Homo sapiens: one gene and its partners. The protein of the gene in region 3 purifies or fractionates together with the protein of the main gene of each other region. This does not show direct contact. Each region holds a gene or a part of one and is shown on either strand. Other genes may lie near its edges.

What was found. The genes of interacting proteins can lie anywhere in the genome.
Region 1: the proteins of KRT81 (region 3) and OMA1 purify together in Homo sapiens (affinity purification with mass spectrometry; one large-scale study listed by BioGRID and IntAct). This does not show direct contact.
Region 2: the proteins of KRT81 (region 3) and FAM83D purify together in Homo sapiens (affinity purification with mass spectrometry; one large-scale study listed by BioGRID and IntAct). This does not show direct contact.
Region 4: the proteins of KRT81 (region 3) and IFFO1 purify together in Homo sapiens (affinity purification with mass spectrometry; one large-scale study listed by BioGRID and IntAct). This does not show direct contact.

The regions. Positions count from the first base shown.
Region 1 is NC_000001.11:58,504,192-58,509,268, forward strand, and holds part of OMA1 (metalloendopeptidase OMA1, mitochondrial precursor), read right to left. Parts: intron 2,019-5,077; coding exon 1,869-2,018; intron 1-1,868. UniProt on the Homo sapiens protein: Metalloprotease that is part of the quality control system in the inner membrane of mitochondria. Activated in response to various mitochondrial stress, leading to the proteolytic cleavage of target proteins, such as OPA1, UQCC3 and DELE1.
Region 2 is NC_000020.11:38,935,875-38,940,951, forward strand, and holds part of FAM83D (protein FAM83D), read left to right. Parts: intron 1-5,077.
Region 3 is NC_000012.12:52,283,836-52,288,534, forward strand, and holds the end of KRT81 (keratin, type II cuticular Hb1), read right to left. Parts: intron 4,622-4,699; coding exon 4,526-4,621; intron 4,314-4,525; coding exon 4,149-4,313; intron 3,887-4,148; coding exon 3,761-3,886; intron 3,488-3,760; coding exon 3,267-3,487; intron 2,988-3,266; coding exon 2,956-2,987; intron 2,659-2,955; coding exon 2,420-2,658; 3' UTR 2,078-2,419; downstream 1-2,077.
Region 4 is NC_000012.12:6,548,508-6,553,584, forward strand, and holds part of IFFO1 (non-homologous end joining factor IFFO1), read right to left. Parts: intron 2,997-5,077; exon of another isoform or gene 2,891-2,996; intron 2,495-2,890; coding exon 2,434-2,494; intron 2,284-2,433; coding exon 2,188-2,283; intron 1,390-2,187; coding exon 1,249-1,389; intron 978-1,248; coding exon 969-977; intron 343-968; coding exon 161-342; intron 39-160; coding exon 1-38. UniProt on the Homo sapiens protein: Nuclear matrix protein involved in the immobilization of broken DNA ends and the suppression of chromosome translocation during DNA double-strand breaks (DSBs).

The DNA.
Region 1 (5,077 bases), on a different chromosome or scaffold from region 3:
CAAGTCCTTACAATGGCTTAGAAGATCCTGCGTGGTCTGGTCCCCTTTCACCTCATCTTGAACTGTTCTTCCCTTCCCTTACTCCATTCAGCCCCAATGTCTTCCTTGCTATTCCTTGAACACATCAAACATACGCTGACTTTAGGTTCTCTGCATCAGCTGCTTCCTCAGCCTAAAAGGCTCTCTCTCCCTCCACACAGCTAAAGGACTTGCTCCCGTGCTTCCTTCCGGATTCTGATTAGTGAGGCCTTCCTTGACAACCGAACATAGACTAGTACCCCTTCTCTGCTGCCCACCCCTCTCTAATACCTTTAATCTGCTTTATTTTTTCCCAAGGTACTTATTATTGCTTGGCATACTATATGTTTGTTTCTTATTTGCATTACCTAACTAGAATGTTAACTCCAAGAAAACAGACTGTTTTGTTCCTTGCTCATTCCCCAGCAATAGAACACAGAATAGTAGATTAATCAATAAGTATCAATAAATATCGATCTACCTAATGAATGAATAAATCTTGCACTAGAGTTTCTTATCCCAAACTAGAAGCAGATTCATCTTCCTTCAAACTGCATACCGTTTTTATTTTTCTTATGATAAATCATATCCTTGTACTAATAATCATTTTTTATTTATCTTAGCATCCTGTAAATATCAAGAACCATATCTTATTCCTCTTTGTATCCCCCACATCTAGCATCATTTCTTTCTTTTAAGAGGTACTCCGTATTTGTTGGGCTGAATTTGAAGTCATACTGAAAGATACTTCTTTTTTTTTTTTGAGACAGAGTCTCACCCTGTCGCTGACTAGAGTGCAGTGGCACGATCTCGGCTCACTACAACTTCTGCCTCCAGGGTTCAAGCGATTCCCCTGCCTCAATCTCCCGAGTAGCTGGGATTACAGGCGCATGCCACCACGCCCGCCTAATTTTGTATTTTCAGTAGAGACAGGGTTTCACCCCGTTGGCCAGGCTGGTCTCGAACTCCTGACCTCAGGTGATCCACCCACCTCAGCCTCCCAAAATGCTGGGATAACAGGCATGAGAAAGATACTTCTATAATACACCTGGATCTGTTGTGCTATGCCTTAGCACATGGCCCAGTACCAATTCTTAAATTGCTAAAAAATGTTCCGCTTTCATAACAAGCCACCAAATTTAATACAAGTGAGATAGAAGAGAGCGTGTAACGTGGCTCAGAGATGCCTAACATCCATTTTGTCCTGATATGGAAACCATAAAAACATTCTGAATGATGTCAACAAATCAAAAGATTTTCAGAGGATACTGAAAACTACTTGGCAGAAAGCCGCCTCAGCTTGACCCACTTATGAATTCTACAGAAAGAAAAGCCAGAGAGCAAATGCTTCACTCTTATCTTCATAAAGAAATAAATAACCAGAAACAAACATGAAGATTTTTTTTCCTAAAAAAACAAATTCCAGTACCACTACTACAATTAATATCCACTTGACCCAAAACTTCTGTACAACTCATTAACTGGTATTTTTAACAAAAAGCTTAAATCACCAAGGAAAGATTAAATTATCATCAACATGTTTAAAAAACTTAATATGCCTTGAGTTTTAAACTTTCATCAAGTCAGTTAAAATTAAAGTCTCATACTAAAGGAGTTAAACCTTCACTATTAAGAAAAGTCAACTGTACATAGTAATTTATTCTCCAAGACTTGTGGACAAGCAGAATTTTGCTTTTCAGTCAAATTCTGTGACAACTGATAATCCATAATTATAGTAATCAAAATAGTTAATAGGCTAGAACTCTCTTTTACTAAGCAAAAGAAGTGACAGCATTAAAAATAAATGATACAGTAAAAATAATGTCCCGCCTTCTACGGTGTCAGCTCACCTGAGGTATAAGTCTATCCAAGTACTCAACTCGATTGCCATGAGAAGGGTGTGTAGATAACCATTCTGGCATCTTGGGTTGGCCATGCAGGCTATCAACGAACTCCATTTGCTGCCAAAACACTGAACTGGCTCTTATGTCTGCACAAGCCTAAAACCAAAATTAGTAAAACCACACAATGAGCTCAGTTTTGAGGATTTTTTAAAAACTACTACTTTATTTTTTTTTAATTCTATTATAATTATACTTTAAGTTTTAGGGTACATGTGCACAACGTGCAGGTTTGTTACATACGTATACATGTGCCATGTTGGTGTGCTGTACCCATTAACTCGTCATTTAGCATTAGTTATATCTCCTAACAACTTTATGTCACTACATGCTTTAAAGTCATTTTCTATCATCACTTTAATAAAAGTAGAACATGCCCATTGCTTAGAAAAAGACCCACCTCAAACAACATGGTATCACAGTACTGAAATAACAGAATGCCTGCCCTTCCCATATACAACATTCACAATAACCCTGCTAACCAAAGATAGCCCACTATTTTCAGTATGATGGATATTAAGAACATGTATTAAGGGTAAAATCTTTTACACAAATTAAAAATTCTGTTTTCATAAAGTTTTAAAATATAATGTTATTAAACTGTATTAAAGAAACTTTACTTCTATGCCACTAGAACAATCAGAAAAAAACTTCAAATAAACATAAAGAGATGACATGTTTATTATGCACATCAATTTACCCAATTTTCTCAATGTATATGGACAATATATTTAATTCATATACCTTATAAAACACAATACCTTATAAAAGTACAATATAAAAGTACATTAGTACTTTTTAAAAGAATATATGTAGATCTTGTGTATGTACAATTCCATCATACACTCATATACATACTCATACGTATATACTTGTATATGCACAGAACATATCTGAGAAGCTATTTAAGAAGCTGTTAACTACCCTAAGAATGTACCTGAGGTATCTGATAGTGGAGAGGGAGCAACACTTTTATTTCTGAACTATATTAAAATACATTATTTTATAATTAAAATTATTTTTAAATCCTCCATAAGGTGGATTATTAACAAATATTTTATTAATTTGTTCAATTTATTCACATTTCTTAACTTATTCTTTCTATAATAAGTAACTGGAAAACAAGTGGTTATATTTCCCAATGATTTTATTTTTGATTAAAACTAAGAAAAAATATATATACTATACTGACTAAAATGTACTCTCAAAAAGATTTATAATAGTGTAATTGTGAAACCCCAAAAGGCAAATATATTAATAGAACACTGCATGCTAGTCAACAACCATGCTACATCATTTCTTAACAAATACCATTAAAGCATTTCCAAATGTTAGCAAAATAAAAAATTTTAAATTCAAGTAAATCTTATTCAATATTTAAAGAAATATAATTCCTTAAGACCTCTGAGTATTCTAAGTTGAAAAGAATTCAAGGTACTTTATACACTACTGCACAGATATGGATATACATGTTTATATGTATATAAACAGGAATATACAAGATAAATGTATATAACAAACATAAATATTATTCATGTTTATACACATATAAATACATATCTATATATGCAAGATGTGTGTGTGCTTATGTGTAAAATATGTATGTAACATATGTATCTATAAAGAAATAATTATTTGATGCTGAATTAGAAACACCCAGAGGACTATGCCCCTCAATAATAGGTAATCACATTCACAATAAAAATACAGGCTGAGATTAACAAGTATTCTTCTCAAATAATTCATAAAAATATAAAATGACTTGAAAGAATTCTAACACAAACAAAAAACCCCTCTGAAAACTGGAAGATAAACATTTGAATGGACTACAAATTCACGAATTATCTAACATGAAGTTTGTCTGCTACACAAACCAAAGGCATACTTATCTAATTTTTTTAGCCTAAAACTGTTAATCAAAAGACAAAATATTTCCCTATTCAATCTCTAAGTAACACAGCTGAAGGGAATCTTTAAAGCAATATTTGATATGCAGAAATAGAAAAAGAAATTAATTATCCCTACAGACTAGAAAGTATTCCAAGCTAAAAGTATTAAAAGGGGACTTGAGATATCTACTTTAATGTTAAGATAAGAGTGTTGAGTTTGTCTGTACTTCTCAAACCCAGTTCAAAGAGCCACTAAAGTCAGATAATTTTGTTTCCAAAATGAGTATTTTATTTACATTTTTCCAATTTAGGAAAAATAAGTAACAGGTTGACATCAGCAAGATGGAAGAATAGGACGCCCTAAACCCTCCTTCCCCACATGAACACACTGATTCAACGATAATATACGAATTCCCTTTGTGAGAAATCCTGAAACTAGGTGCAATGCTTCTGCACCTGCACAAGTACGAAATGAACAACATCAAACCTGGTAGAAGACTGGAGACACCCTCTTGCCATAATCTGCGAGAGCAATTATGTACCCCCAATACAGCACCATATGATCATAAGAACACCTGCAGCTCCCCACCACTCCTTGGGGAAGGAAAAACTTGGCTTGTGTATCTAACATTCCAACTTTTCTAAGAGCTGCCCTAGGAACTGGCTTCTGTCTTGCCAGCCTTGTAGCACTGATGGAATCTAAAACGCCCTAGATATCTAGGGGCCAGTGATAATGTGACAGAAGTTTGAACAAGCACACAAGCAGTTGCCATGACCACTCCCTGAAGCTCAGCATGAAATGAGTTGGAGAGAAACTCCAGAGCCCAGCTTCTCCTGGGGCAGGGCTCGGGAAAGAGGTAGATCACGTGTCCAACATTCTAACATTTCTGAGGGCTGTCCAAGGGACTGGCTTCTGTCTCATCTGTCTTGTAGCACTGATAGGACCCAGCATATGGACCAGATGGACCAGACAGGACCCTAGACACCTAGGCACCACTAAGAACAAAGACAGCACTTTGGACTAGCATGAAGGTTTGAGAGGTTCTGGGAATCTCTGCTGTGCTGACTGGTGAAGATCTTCTCCTGTACAAAGACAGTCTGTAAAGGCTAAGAGGTTGCTGTTTTTTCCTAATGTGTAGATATCAACAATAAGAGTGAAAAAAATAAACAGAGAAATATGTACCAAAGGATGAAGATAAATCTTCAGAAACTGACCCTAATGAAAGAGAAATATATTACTTATCTAACAAGAGAATTCAAAATAACCAT
Region 2 (5,077 bases), on a different chromosome or scaffold from region 3:
AAAGGTTTTTGACAAAATCCCAAGGAGATTATTTCTGTTCTATTAAAACATGTAATACATGGAGAGAAAATATATCTTTTGCTTTTTTAGCAAGAGGGTCCTGAGAGAGTTAGGAGAGGAAGTGAAGGGTCAATGGAGGCCATGTGGTCAGCTGGGAGAATGCAGCAGCCAGGATGTTATTGACCACAGCACAGGCTGACATTGAGTGGGTGCAGATCTTTGGTGGAATTCCAAGCATGTTGCACACCTGACCTCACTTTATGACTCTGGGAGGGAAGGGAGGGAAACTGAGGTGCAGTGAGAAGGGGTGATCGGTACGAACTTCCTCCTTCACACAGAGGAAGAAGAGCTAGAATGAGAACTGGAATGACTGGCCCTGAGGGGCCTGTTGGGGCTGCACATGTGCCTGGTCAGAGCCTAGACCTGCCCATTGAGTGTGTATGAATCACTGACTTCGCAGAGCTGGAAGGGTTCCTTGTTTCAAGGACACCGAGACTCAGATGGAATGGCTTGTCCAGGGATAGTGACGGAATCGGGACTAAGAATATGAGTAGCTGCCATTTAAGGGCTTTCCATATGCCAGGAACTGCCAGCAAACACTATGAGATAGGTACTGTCAATCATCCGTGGTGAGCTTGAGCCCATGCACTTCATGGGCTACGCCACTGATCCTTTAGTGTTTGTTCTAAGCTTCCAGTCATGTGAAAAACTGCCCATTAAACTTGGTTGGAATGATATAAAATACTGAGTATAGTACTTTTTTTAGATGGCTCCGGAGTCACAGAGACCTGGGTTGAAATTCCAGCCCTTGTACTTGTTTAAGTTTGTCACCTTGAACAAGCTACCTAACCTCTCCAAGCTTTGGCTTTCTCATCTATAAATTGGGGATGACAGGTAATGGGGTTTTGAAATTTCTAGATAGCACTTTTGAGCTTTTGTGCAAGAAGGCAAGCAGAAAAGAGTTCAGTTCTATGTGGCAAGTAACATAAACAGGGTCTGTGACCTTCCCAGAGACCAAGAAGGCCATCATGACGTCTGCTGTTCAACTACATAGGTTCCCAAGTCCCTTGGTACAAATCAGGAGGGGACAGGTAGAAGGACTGAGAGAGGTAGGCTTGTGATTTGTTACCTGAGATGATGATGTGAGAGTGGACACACATGCAGCTGCTCCAGATATGGCTGGAGAAGTGCAGGAACAGTGGGGTCCTGGTCAGCAGGCCGGCCATTATGCCCCTGACCAGCTGGATGCGTCCTCCTCACGTCTCCTGTTGTAACTGACTTGCACTGAGTTGCAAATTGCAAATGGGTGTTGACCCTGGAAGGGACTCTTGAAAGTCACCACTCTCACGACTTTCTAGTCCTTAGAGAGTGGGTGGGCTCCATGCAGCACAGACTGGGAGAGTGCCATGACTGTGGGCACTTGATGTGCAAGGGCTGCCTGCCTTCCAGACATGCCATTGTCCTTCGCACATTATTGCCTCCAGGAGTGGGAGCAGTGGCCAAATACACATCAGGTGTATTTCTGGACCCACAGGCTGCAGCAAGAGCACCGGATACCTAGGAGTTGCATCCTGGCTTGGAAAGCAGGACTCGGCCGGTTAGTGGATGAGTCCAGGTCATTGCTCAGCTCAGTGAAGAGAGTGTCCCTTCAGTCTAGCCCCAGGTCTACTTCAGCTATGCAGGGATTGGTTGCATGAGGGCTGGGACACAGGAATGGGGGATGGGGATGGGGATTTGAAGGAAGACTTCCCTACTGATTGCTTCTACAGTAGGACTATGGACTTTTCCTCTGTAAAAGACAAGTACTTTTGGCTGGGCATGGTGGCTCATGCCTGTAATCTCTGCACTTTGGGAGGCCAAGGTGGGTGGATCACTTAAGCTCAGAAGTTGGAGACCATCCTGGGCAACATGGTGGGATTCTGTGTCTACAAAAATTAGCCAGGTGTGGTGGCGTGTGCCTGTAGTCCCAGCTACTTGGAAGGCTGAGGTGGGAGGATTGCTTGTGCTTCAGAGGCGGAGGTTGCAGTGAGCCGAGATCACACCACTGCACTCCAGCCTGGGCGACAGGGTGAAACTGCATCTCCAGAAACAAAAAAATAGACGAATATTTTTAAGAGTCCTGCTTTAGTAAGAAAGGAGTGGATGCTGGGTGTAGGGGAAGTCAGGGGAAGAAAAAAACCTCCATCAACCCTACGCACCCTGATGGTGTTAAGGACTAGTGTTCAAATCCAACGCACAGGAAAGGGTGAGGCTTTAAAACCAAACAATGGAACAAATAGCAAATTAGGTATTTACTCACCATATAACAAAGGTGTTGCACAATTGTTTTGTTAAGTGGTGAATCAAAATTCAGCTTGGCCGTGCCTTGTGCTGTGGGCCCCCAGGCCCATGCCCCTGCCTCCAGCAGGTCTCTAATCCAGCAGCTGGGCTGGGTTTTTCTGATCTCTGTTCCAGTAGCACTGAGGGAACGTGTCCTTTGGCCCGTCACACTCTGTTACCCCTGGCTTGTCTCCTGTCTCATTAGACTGCGTTCTTGAGGACAGGGATTGACACTAGATCCTCAGTGCTCAACACCTGCCTGCCTCGATTGGGTCCACAATGAAGATTTGAAAGAAGAGTGGGAAATCAGAGAGGCAAGCAGGTGTGTGCATTTTCCTCTTTAGCTTTCTCCTGTGAGCTCTACTCTCATTTGTACACCTGCATATTCCAAACCTCTTTTTGAAGGTTTTACTGCCACCTCAAAATCCGTTTCGAAGCTCACCCCTCACTCTTGCTTCTTGTCTTGTGTTTCCTGTTTCCTTGTATCTGAATATCCCTCTCCCTGTCATCCTCAGCCCATGTCGCCCACTGCTCGGCTCTCCCATGATCTCCTTCCCTCTTCTGCAACCCTCATTGCTTCTGCCGTGCTACTGATTTGTCTTCATCTGGTCTCTAGTCCTCCTAAACATTTATTGAAGTTGCTTAACCTAAAGAATATCCACGTGACTGCTGTGTTGCAGGTCCTGTGTTGGAGGAGGTGGGCCCAGATCTCTGACCTATACCAATCTCTTCTGGCATCAGTTTCTTCCATCCTGTTGGATTCTTCACTTCGAACTCATTACTCTTATACAGGCAATGTGGGGAAGATTGAAACTGATTCCTTGGTTGGCATTCAGGGCCTTCTGTGATCTTGCTCATTCATCCGTCTTTTCCAGTCATGTCCCGTGGCTCCCTTTCATGCATGCTGTACGTTCCAGCCAGACTGGTACATACCCCGTCATGCCCTACCTCTTCCTCTGTTATCATGTGGCTTCCTGCGGGAATGCCTTCTCCTCCCTTCACTTCTCCCATGCCCTTGTCCAAATTTTGTCCTTGTGCTTCAGCTCAAATGCCATCTCCTCCAGGAAGCCTTCCCTGCTCTTATCTGGTAAGCATTTGAGTACCTATAGTGCCCATAGTCCACCACTGGAGGAGACACCTTGTTTTTGTTTTGTTTTGTTTTGTTTTGTTTTTTGAGATGGAGTCTTGCTCTGTTGCCCAGGCTGGAGTGCAGTGGTGCGATCTCGGTTCACTGCAACCTTCACCTCCCAGGGTCAAGTGATTCTTGTACCTCAGCCTTCCTAGTAGCTGGGATGACAGGTGCATGCCACCATGTTCATCTAATTTTTTGTATTTTTAGTAGAGATGGGGTTTTACCGTGTTGGCCGGGCTGCTCTCAAACTCCTGACCTCAGGTAATCCACCCACCTCGGCCTCCCAAAGCACTGGGATTACAGGCATGAGCCATCATGCCCGGCCCCCTTAGTTTAATTGCTTAGGCTGTATATATCATTTTGCCTCTCTGCATCCTGTGTCCTCTCCTTGAGGTAAGTTGGGTCTATGTCAAATTCCTCATAGCCATCTTTCTGCCTAGTGCAGTGTGCAGCCCACAGCGTGCTCTGAGGAGGTGCTGGCTGCATAATAGCACCTGTTTCCTGCCTTGCCCTCCCTGTGCTAAGCCCTTTCCATGCTTTGTTTCACTTAATCCTCACAGCAGCCCTTTGACCCAGATGCTATTAATTTTGTCTTCCTGAGGAGGAAACTGAGGCTCAGAGAGATTAAGCCACTTGCCCAGGGTCACACAGCTGGTAGGTGGTAGAGCTGGGTTCTATGCCCAGAACTTTTGCCTTTAATTCCTGTTGTATGACCCGAATGAGTGGGATGAATAGAACTGTCAAAATAGGATGTGTAAAGCCAGTGGAGGATGTAAACTTCAGAGGATGCCACAAATTCAGAAAGAACGCTTCTCATTTTTTAAATCACTGTGTTCAGTGGGTTTCAGCCATGCCCTTTACCAAGAATAGCCCACAGCTTAGACCATCATTAAAAGGGGTGGGGTGGGAAAGGCAGCAGGAGAGTAACTGGTCTTCTCAACCCCCTCACAGCAATGACTTCCCAGGAACTGGTGTTTCAGGGTCTCACATCCTAGTAGACCAGGCCCTGGAGTGTTGGAGAAAGACAGCCAAATTGCCTTTTTGCCTCTTCATTCCTTCTTTAATCCCCCAAATCCTTAAGGAGTCATGACTGTCATATACTGTCCTAAGTCCTCTGGGACCACAGAAATGACTCAATCCCATTCAAGAGCCTTTGCTGCAGGAGAAGGAGTGAAACCCATAAATGAATAATCCTAACTTTCAGAAAAAGAGTTAATGTGATTCTGAGAGACAGGCTTTTACTGTGGAAATGGGGAGGAAGGAGAAACCCTTATATCTCCAGACTACAGAAGAGCCCCCAAGCCTCGGCTTCCTTAGTTAACACCCCCAACTTCTGACTCAGTTTGTCAGGACCTGTTTCTAAGCCTGGAGGTTTGGACACCCCCACTGCCCTGCCAGGAGTTTGCTGAGGACCTTGGTTTTAAGCCTGCAAAAGGTGTGATTAGAGGCATTGTGGCAGGAGCAGCCTGTCTTTAAAAGAGCGAGGAAAGCTAGGCGGTGTCTCCCTGTGTTGAACTGTCTGGACGGCTCCAGCTCTGGACTGGTAAAGTGAATAAACGAGCAGATACTAAGGGATCCTTTGTACCTTGCACTTTATGTAACATAGTCATTTAGTTCTCGATACAA
Region 3 (4,699 bases):
GCTAAAGGTCACACAGTGAGATGTTCCATTTTCTTCACCATTCTGCACCCGGGGCATTATGTGTTTGATTCCTTCCCGCCTTGCTCCTCTGTCTGAGCCTGTGCAGGAATGGGAACCTAGAGGGAGGTGAGGATTGTGGGGCCGGAGTAGGAAGGAAGAGAGGGTCAGAGCTAGAGGGAGAGTGAGGGAGTGAAATACGGCAGGTCACTAAGGCCCAGCTAGGCTGAAGTTGGAATAGGTGAGAAGTCCATCAGGACTGGAGTTGTAGTTGGCTTCTGAACTAGGGAGGGATGGAGCTGGTGCTTGAGTCTCAGGTCTGGACTCCTGACAGGGGCTGCTGCTGCTGCTGCTGCTTCTTGTTTTTTTATTTTTTTGAAACAGGGTCTTGCTGTGTCGCCCACGCTGGAGGCAGTGGCACAAACATGGCTCACTGTGCGGCTTCAACTTCCTGGGCTCAAGCTGTCCTGCTTCGGCCCCCTAAGTAGCTGGGACTATAGGTGCACACCACGTCGCCCAGCTAATATTTTTATATTTTATAGAGATAGAGTCTCACTGTATTGTCTGGGCTGATCTCTAACTCTGGGGCTCAAGCGATCTTTTCACCTTGGCCTCCTAAAGTGTTGAGATTATAGGTGTGAGCCACTGCACCTGGCCTAGGGCCAGCTTCTGAGCTGTGTGATGTCACAGCATACAGGGCTGGTTGGAATGATTGATCACAAATTCTGGAACTTTCTAGGATTGTGTCCCTCTCAGAATTCCATCAGGGGTGGCTGAGAGACCTTGGTTTGATTCTAGCTTTTACAGGAGAATTTGTTCTTTTCAGTCCACTCACTTCTGGTCTCTTAATATTCTTAATAATTTCTAGTGCCCAGAAGGGTAGGGGTGGGGGACTCCCATTTCTGCTGTATTTTCTGGGCCTTGGACTGGAAGTTTAGAGATTCACTCCGGCTTAAAGATGTATGTTCAGGGAGTCACCTTGGCCCATAGTGGGGCTGAGCTGTCATCTTCCCCTTCCCCTACCTCGTCAGTGTCAAGTTAATACTTCCATGCATGAAGGAGCTGAATGGCCCTGGTAACCACGGAGGTTTCTCTCTGTACTTGCAATCTCTGATCACAGATATCAATGTAATAAGAGGTTGGCCATAAGAGGCCCTGATCCCTAGAGGGACTTCTACTTTACATTCTGCAAAAGAATAACACTAATGATAAAAAATAGAGTGATAATTTTGTGGCATGCACCATCTAAACCTTTTACGTATATGAAATCCTTTAACTCATCAACTTATGAGGTGGTTGCCCTTTCTATCATCCTCATTTTGGAGGTGTGGAAACAGGCACAGAGAGGGTAAATACATTGCCCAACCCACTCACCTAGGAAGGACCAGGGCCCAGCTTGGGGCCCAGGCAGTCTGGCTGGAGTCCGTGTCCCCCCTCTATGCCACATCATCTTGCTATGTGCTGTTTTCTGTCTTTGAGGAAAATGTATCAGCTGTGGCAGGTCTCCAAAACCCCAGAGTGATGCCATTTAAAAAAAAAAAAAAGAAAGCCAACATCAAAGGCTTTTTGAAACTTTAAATCATATTCATGTATTCACCTCTTAAAGAATTCCAATAAATTACTCAGGCATGAGTCTTCCCTACCAAAGCAATGGGTGATGTTGCCTCAAGCTTTGAGTGATTGGTGAATCTGATTTTCATGATCCATCAGTTTGCAGATATGCATGAGATGTTTTCTGAGAGACAGCTGCAGTTTAGTGAAATGAGCACTAGCGACACACACAGGGCTTAAACCCCAGATGAACCACCCAACTAAGTGGGTGACCCTGCCCCAATTATTGAGTGCCTCTGAGTTCTGGCTTCTTCATCTGCAAGGTGTATCATTAGGGTTGTGTGGATAAAGTTACATCAAATAGGGGCCTAGCACAACTCTTGGCTAAATCTGAACCTTCTATGAGGCGGGGGATAGAAAACTGTACTGGAGACCCTTGGCTTGGCCTTTTGCTGCTCCATGTGACTTTGGGGACCCTCCCTAACCCCGACCCCTGAGGAGGGTAATAGAGACACACACAAGACCCAGGTTGGCTACATTAATTTATTGAAACACAGATCAAGAGCAGAGGAGGAAGGGGAGAGGCAGGAAGGCAGTTGCCGTGGGCAAGGTTCTGGTCCTGGCCCTTCCTGCTCCTGAGGCCCCTTCCTATGGGTGCCAGCGGACTTCTTTCTAGGGTGGCCTTTCCCACTGTGGGGTGGCAGAGCCCAGAAGTGGGGGATCACACAGAGAAATGTGAGGCCAGGAGTGGGAGGGGTCTTTCAAAGTGCAGGAGAAGTAGCTGAGCACTTGCTCCAGGCGCCTGGACTGGATGGGCCAAGCAAGGCAGGGCAGGAAAGATGCCTGGGGCCTGGGACTTGAGTTGGGGTGCCTAACATTTCCGGCAGCTGCTGCCGCAAGACCCCACACCCAGGGAGCTGATACCACAGGAGCCCACGCCGCAGGAACCCCCTCCGCAGGTGGTGTTCAATTGGCCGCAGGGCGCACACAGGCCGGTGCTCACCGCCACGTTCCCGTTGCACGGAGCGCTGCAGACACTGCCAGTCACTGGCCGGGAGCCTGACACGCAGAGGTCCCCGCACACGACCCCGCCCCGGGAGCTGCTGACACCTGTGAACCCCGAAGGCTGAGTCAAAATTCTGAAGGGCAAGCCATCCTGCCTTCCTGACAACCGCCCCTGCCCAAGACCTGAGCTCTGGTATGAAAAGTCAGAAGCATCTTTGTGGACAATTCTAGGTCCATCTAGTCCAAGAGCTGGGGTCTTTTGGATGTCTGACCCCAAATCCCTCCTGTTGTGATGCCAGCCCACTCTTTTATATTCAATCTCAGTAACACTCCTTTTTCCAAACTCTGCCCTCCATCACAGGTAGTTAGTAAATCTGTCCACACTGGACCCCAAATACTCACAGACATTCACAGCCCCAATGCCTTCACATAGCCTGAGGGCAAAAGAGAAAAAGGCAACATTAGTGACTGCCCCAGAGTGGCTGAAAAAGCTCCCCAGTTCATAGGGTAGGGTCCACAACTGGTCAATTAAGAACAGAGTCTGAGGGAACAGCTTGCCTCAGACAAACTCACACACCAGCCCTCCCCACACCGGAAGTGAATAATAATATTTTTTTCCCCCAGAGCCCTGGCCATTGCTCAGCCAAGGCCAAGGGTAGGCTTGTGCCAGGGATGGGGAAGGGTGGTTCTGGGCCACCCTTGGTTGGACCCACCTCTGCTCCTCGCCCTCCAGCAGGCGCCTGTAGGTGGCGATCTCGATGTCCAGGCCCAGCTTGGAGTTCATCACCTCCTGGTACTCCCTGATCAGGCAGGCCATGTCCTGCTTGGCCTTCTGCAGGGCGCCCTCCAGCTCGGCCAGCTTGCAGCGGGCATCACTGAGGGCCGCCTCACCCTGCTGCTCAGACTGGGCCACCGCGGCCTCCAGCTTGGAGTTCTGAAGAGAACAGAAAGAACAAGGTAGATTAGAGTCCCTGGGTCTCTCTGATGCTCATCCAAATGAGACCACACTCCCCACCAAGCTGGGAGCACCCCAGAACAGAGCCTCTTGCCTTTATCACCTGGGACTCATTGAGAGACCACGACCAGGGACTCTACATGGACAAAGGGGGTGGAGAATGAATGCTGAGATCCAGGTAGGGCACACATAGGCTGTGTGACAATGGTTAGGCCCTCGGTCTCTCTGACCTTGCGCACAGATGCCCCATACCTGGCACTTGGCATTCTCCACCTCGGCCGTCAGCCTTTGGATCATGCGGTTCAGCTCATTGATCTCCTCCTTGGTGCGGCGCAGGGTCTCCCCGTGCCTGATCACCGTGGCCTTCATCTCCTCACACTGGGGGAAGTAGAGATGCTCATGAGGTTCAGGGTGGGACCTCCCATCCATTCAGGACACCACAGATGATTTTGCAGGTTGTACAGTGCTCAGCCTGTGCAGCCACACATGGCAGTCCTGCCCTGCCACCCCAACCTCAGATTGGCAGCCCTCTCTTCTCATCCCTAGGGACCAGCATCCCCAGAAAAGGAAGCCTATTTAATAGATATCTCACATCCCTCCCACTGACACGTCTAGCAGGCAGGTGTCCTGTGCCACTCACCTTGCTGCGGTACCAGGACTCGGCCTCGGCCCGGCTGCGGGTGACAATGTCGTCATACTGTGCCTTAATCTCGGCAATGATGCAGTCCATGTTCAGGTCCCGGCTGTTGTCCAGCTTGACAACCACGGAGGTGTCTGAGATGTGCGACTGGAGAATGAGGATCTCCTGCAGGAGGTGAGGGCAGTGACTTTAGTTGAGAATACAGCCCCACCCACCATGTCCTGACTCCACCTCCTCAGGCTTTCTCTGGTCCCCAACCCTGCCCCCTCACACAGCCTCAGGGACTGCAACCTCTACCCACATCCTGTCCAACACTCCCACCCCCAACTCTCCTCTCTGCTGGCTGCCAGGTTTCTGTCTGGCCCCTGAGCCCGCACCTCCTCATACAGCCGCCTCAGGAAGTCGATCTCCTGGATCAGGGCCTCCACGTTGGCCTCCAGGTCTGACTTGCGGAGGTAGGCGCAGTCCACATCCTGGAAAGGTGGGGAGTGTTGGAGCTCAAGGACCCTGGTGATCCAGCCCCCAGACTCCTCTCTCTGCCCATCCATTCC
Region 4 (5,077 bases), about 46 Mb from region 3:
TCAGGCTGTCACAGTCGTCCTCAAAATCATACTCCCTCCTAGAGACAGGGAACCCGGGTGTCAGGGCGGGCGGGGCCTCGTCCTGGCGGGGGACTGGGGAGCTCCGGCCTCCTGGGCTGCTGTGGCGTCGGTGCTGCGGGAGCACGGCCTGCGGACTCACAGCTGGTTGAGCATGCGCTGCATCTCCTCGTTGATGCTGAGGGCTGTGCTCTCCTCCTCATCCCCATCGGGCTGGCGGGGCCCCTCACTCTCCGACAGGGAGGTGTCCTCCTCGACGGCAGCCTTGCGCTCCCGCTTCCGCCCCCCCATGGATGGGACCTTAATGGGAGACAAGTGCAGAGACTACAGAGACGAGGCCGGGTGCATGAGGAGAAAGGGCGGGAGCGGGAGGCCGGGCAGAGAGGGTGGGAATGGGGGAGAAGCATGAACCAGTAGGAAGGGGGGGCAGACAGAGAGAAAAGTCACAGTTACAATGACAGGAACAGAAACACGGACAGTCACCAAGGGCCAGACACACAGCGGGGGTCAGGGCTGCAAACCGAGAAGGCAGAACAAGAAGAAATCGAGAAGAAGAGCAGTCAGACAAGGAAGGAAGGGCTCGCTGGGGCTGCAGTCAGATGTGCATGATGGCTCAAGAGGAAATTTTTTTCTAAAAAAAGTCTTTTTGATTAAATGACTCAACTAAAAAAAAAAAAGCTTTAGGACGCAAGGAGGATGAGTGTGCAATGTGTACAAAAGAGAACCTGAATCACATCCAGATCTGGAAAGCCGGGGGAGAAGGGAGAGAAAGAAATGCAGTCAAGAGAACAAGAGATAGAGAGAAAAAGGGGGAAGAGCAAGGAAAAGGGAAAGGGCAGAAAAAAATCCGTGCTCAAGAGCCCAGCGGGCCCAAACTGAGGGCCAGGAGGCCTAGGCAGCTTAGAAACTGGGACTGGGACATTAATAAGCTTGCGTGAGATCAAACTAACCAGCTTCTTCTGTGGAGGAAGCAAGAGAGAAGATGAGAGGAAGAGAGGAGAGGAAGCAGACAGAGGAGAGAGAGGGGGAAGGGAGAGACGGCGTTAGAGACAGCTTCCACGATGCCCCTCCTGATGCTGCTCCTTACCCCCCAGTCTAGCCCCGTGAGGGCCCCAGTTGCCAGGTAAGGCTCCCCAAGCAGGAGGCAGGGCCTGCGTTCCAGGCCAGCCGCCACGGAAGCATCCACCTGCCCCACCCACCCCTGAGAGCAGAGGGCAGCTCCGTCCTCACCTGGAACATCTGGATCATGTCCTCGCAGTTGCGCTGCTGAGCCACATCGCAGAGCTTGGCGGTGATGTCGATGCGGCGGCAGATGTCCATATCCACCTTCATGGCTTTCTCCTGGATCTTGGTGTCCAGCTCCGACAGGTTCTGTCCAGGGAGCCCAGGGAACAGTGAGGAGGCGCCCAGTTCTCCAGACAAGGACGAATTAGGCCTGGCAAGGTCCTCATCCTTCCCACCACATTGCACCGGTGCCTCTTCTGTGGAGTCTCCCTGAGCTGACTGCACCCCTCTTCCTGGGTAGCGGTGGCCTCCCCACAGCACTGTGTGAATATGCTGGGCATGGGGCGGCTCGGGCCACTGCTCCCTGGCCAAACGGAAGCCCTGGAGGGCATGGCCAGTGCCTGGGACATGCAGGGGGCTCACTGGAACGACTAGCGGTCCTCATCCTCCTAGAACTTACATTCCCAGAGAGAAAGAGACTCCTGGGAATTATAAGAGTGGAGAAAGGACTATAATAATCGCAACAGCTAACACTCTTCCAGCTAACACTGCATGCTGGGCACTGTCCCGAGTACATGACCACCCTCACAATACTCCTGCAGAGCGCACGCGTTTATTTCCCCACGCCAAAGGTGAGGCCTCAGAGGCTGAGGAATCGGCCCAGCGCCCCGGCGCCAGCTGCAGAGCCTCCACCCCAGAAGCTGCTCACTAACTGCTCTGCAACCCCAGGCCCTCAGAAGCTGCGCCACCTCTGTGACGCAACACCGAGACTTTTGTTGCTTGTCTTTCTCTGGAGTTAGGGGTGGCTAGGGGAAAAAGGGAAGGAAAGCAAAGAGAAGGGGAGGAGCCGTGGACGGGAGGCCAACAGGCCAACACTAGAAGGGCCTACTCTTCTGGCCTCAGAAGCCTCACTTCGACCCTCGGGAAGCCTGGGGCTGCACTCACGTTACTCATGAGCCCCTTGAAGACCACCAGCTCAGCCTTCAACTGTTCCACCTTCAGTGCCAGCTCCTCCTGGCAGGCATCAGCCTCCTGGGCTTCCTGCAGTTGGGAGAAACCCTGATGTTGGTGGCACTGCCGAGGTGGGAGGAAGATAAAGATGCCAAGGAGGGACAGGGAGACGGCAGCAGGGTCATGGGCAGACAGGGGTACCCAGGGAAGCACCAGCAGCAAGTGGGGCGCCACCCTCACCTCCTGGAGCTCATTTACACGGTCTTGCAGCTGGATCCGCACCGTGTACTCCTCTTCCCACCTGACAGACATGGGAAGGGCGGAGAGAGCTTAGGTACAGAGTCCTTCCCTGCCCCCATGGCTCCCTGTCCCCACCTCTCTGGCTCAGGCCTCAGACCCCAGTTCTGGTTCCCTGGATGGGGAGGAGCAGGGCACAGGAATGCCTGGCCAGCCAGCTGGTGACCAACTGCAGCTGTCACGCGGCTCTGTGCTTCCTGATGGGCGTCGAGCTCGCCAGCTGCCTTCCCGGAACCTCCGGGCTGTGCACCAGGAGCTCTGTTTGGGCAAGTGCTGAGGCTCCGGTCCTCCGTGATGCCCATCCCTGCTCAGGCCCCAGCTCAGCCAGCTGTCCGGCTGGCCTCATTGCCCACCTCCTGCCCACACCAGACCACCAGGTCCACCCGGCCCAGTCTCCCACCTTCAGTCGCACAGATCCGGGCTCCCGCCTCCTGCCCGCACCAGAACAGAGCTCGTCGAGCCCGCTGCCCTGCCTCTTGTGGTATCATTTAACCCTGTAAAAGCATCTGCAGGACACATAGTGTATCAACAGAGTGGGTCAAGAGCCTGGTAGGAGACACTCAAAGTCCTTCCCCACTAGCTCCAGAAACTACCCACCCAGAGCCTCCTCTAAGGGAGTCACAGAGAGGTGACCAGACTGGCTCAGAGGCCGGAAGTCCCACAGCAGCATGACAGCAGTGGACACACGAGCCTGGGGTTACTAGCACTCAAACCCAGAGGGAAAGAGAAAGTAGAGTATGTAAAGGGGCCCGGTGAGTACGGCAAATGAGAACTAGACACAGCCTGTTCCAGGGCCCAGAATTCAGAGATTAAGACTGCAAGTGGGCCGGACGACACCCTGGGCCACAGGGCAGGGTCCTAGGTAGGGCATGCTTCCCAGAGCCAGCTTTGTCATGTCTCATCAGCCATGGCAGGCAGTGCATATTCTATTCCATCACAGAGATGGAAGCCAGGGCAACGTGCTGCTTAGGACCCGCCCGGCATTCCAGGGCCCTGCAGTCTAGCTGGCGTAGCAGCACATCTCAAATCCTGTTCCTGTGAGCTCATCACTTCTGTCAACCCGAGAAGGGAGGGGAACTGCACCAAGAGAGAAACTTCAACACAAGAAAGGTGGTTAGGAAGGGGCCAAGAAGACAGCAAGAAAATTAAAATCTGAGTGGGCAGCTTCTGAAGCCTTGGGTGAAGCCCTTTCTTCCCCTTCCCTCCATCTTCCTTCCTGTGTCAGCCTCTGGGTCCCATCTCCTCATTCACAGCCGCACTGCAGTATTCCTAATAATAACTCCTCCACATCACCTCGACTGCCCCTCCCTGCTGGGCAGAGCAGGAGGAGGCAGCCAGCCCAGCCACCACCCTGCTGGCTCCCCACACAGCCCAGCTCCCAGCCTTCCTGGCTCCCAGCCCCCTTCCCTGTGTGTCCCGTAGGTGCTTCTCCCCTCCTCCCTGGCATTCTCATGCATACAGTCAGGCCACTAAGGGAACCAGTCGCATCAGATTATGTTTTCTTAGCTAAGACCCTTATCTTTTCTGGGTCTTGGTTTCTTCATCTATGATGTGAAGGCATGAACTGTGGTGCCCTCATGCGCCGGGAGCCCACGAGTCCCTGGAGGGAGACAGTAAGCCTGTCAAGGGCACGCTAACCCTGGACAAGATGTGTGAAAGAGGGCAGGAGGGGCTATCTGACAGTGAGCTCAACAGAGCCTGGAAGAAACTTAAGTAAGGCAGTTATAGCTAAAGGTTAAGCCTAAGGAAATCTTACAGGGTAAAAAAAATCTACAAATGAATCATCTGGAAGCCCACTACAGTTCTATTTGTTCTTTGGCCAGACTTCACACAGACAGGTTCATTTTCACCTCCATTTCCATCTGGTCTCACTTATAAGGTTCCCTTAACATGGGCAGAATTTGAGAGCGATATCCATGTGTTCTGCATGGACCAAATATCTCTCTTCCAAAAAACTGTATCCCTGGGTTGAAGAGAGAAAGCAGGGACCATTCCTATGTTGGGAAAATGGGGGCTCAAAAAAAGGTCACGCACAAGGCAGGGGAGCTGAAAATAGAACGCAGGAGGCCTTTAGCTACCTCCCAGTGTAGCGCTCAAGCCATCCCAGGCCTTCCAGGCAGAAGACAGGAGTTACAGTGTTGCTATAAAGAGACCAGAATGAGGGCAGGGAATCTAGGGAGGAAGAAGAGTCACTGCCAGTATCACGCACCATCCGAATCCAGCTAAGGCTCTCTACACAGCAGCGTGCTGCAGAGCGATGAGCTAATCAGTCCCCAAGGAATAACTCCTTCCTGTCCTGGACAGCTGGACCAAGGACAAACGCTCCTTCAGTTTAAAAAAAAAATGCTCCTGAGAACAGCAGTTGTTCCTGTGGTTATGGATGTATTCCAGAACTGTGCCTGTGCCACTGCTGAGCGCGTAGTTAACTCCTGCAGGGGCAGAGCAGGCTGGTTCTGGGTGGCAGAACGATGATTTCAGGACAACTGAAACTCCCAAGGACACATAACATGGACCACAACTAAGGAAGCCAGCACGAGGACAGGACTCAAGCTCAGAAAGCCTGCTGATCAGGTCAGGAGTTTGAGAC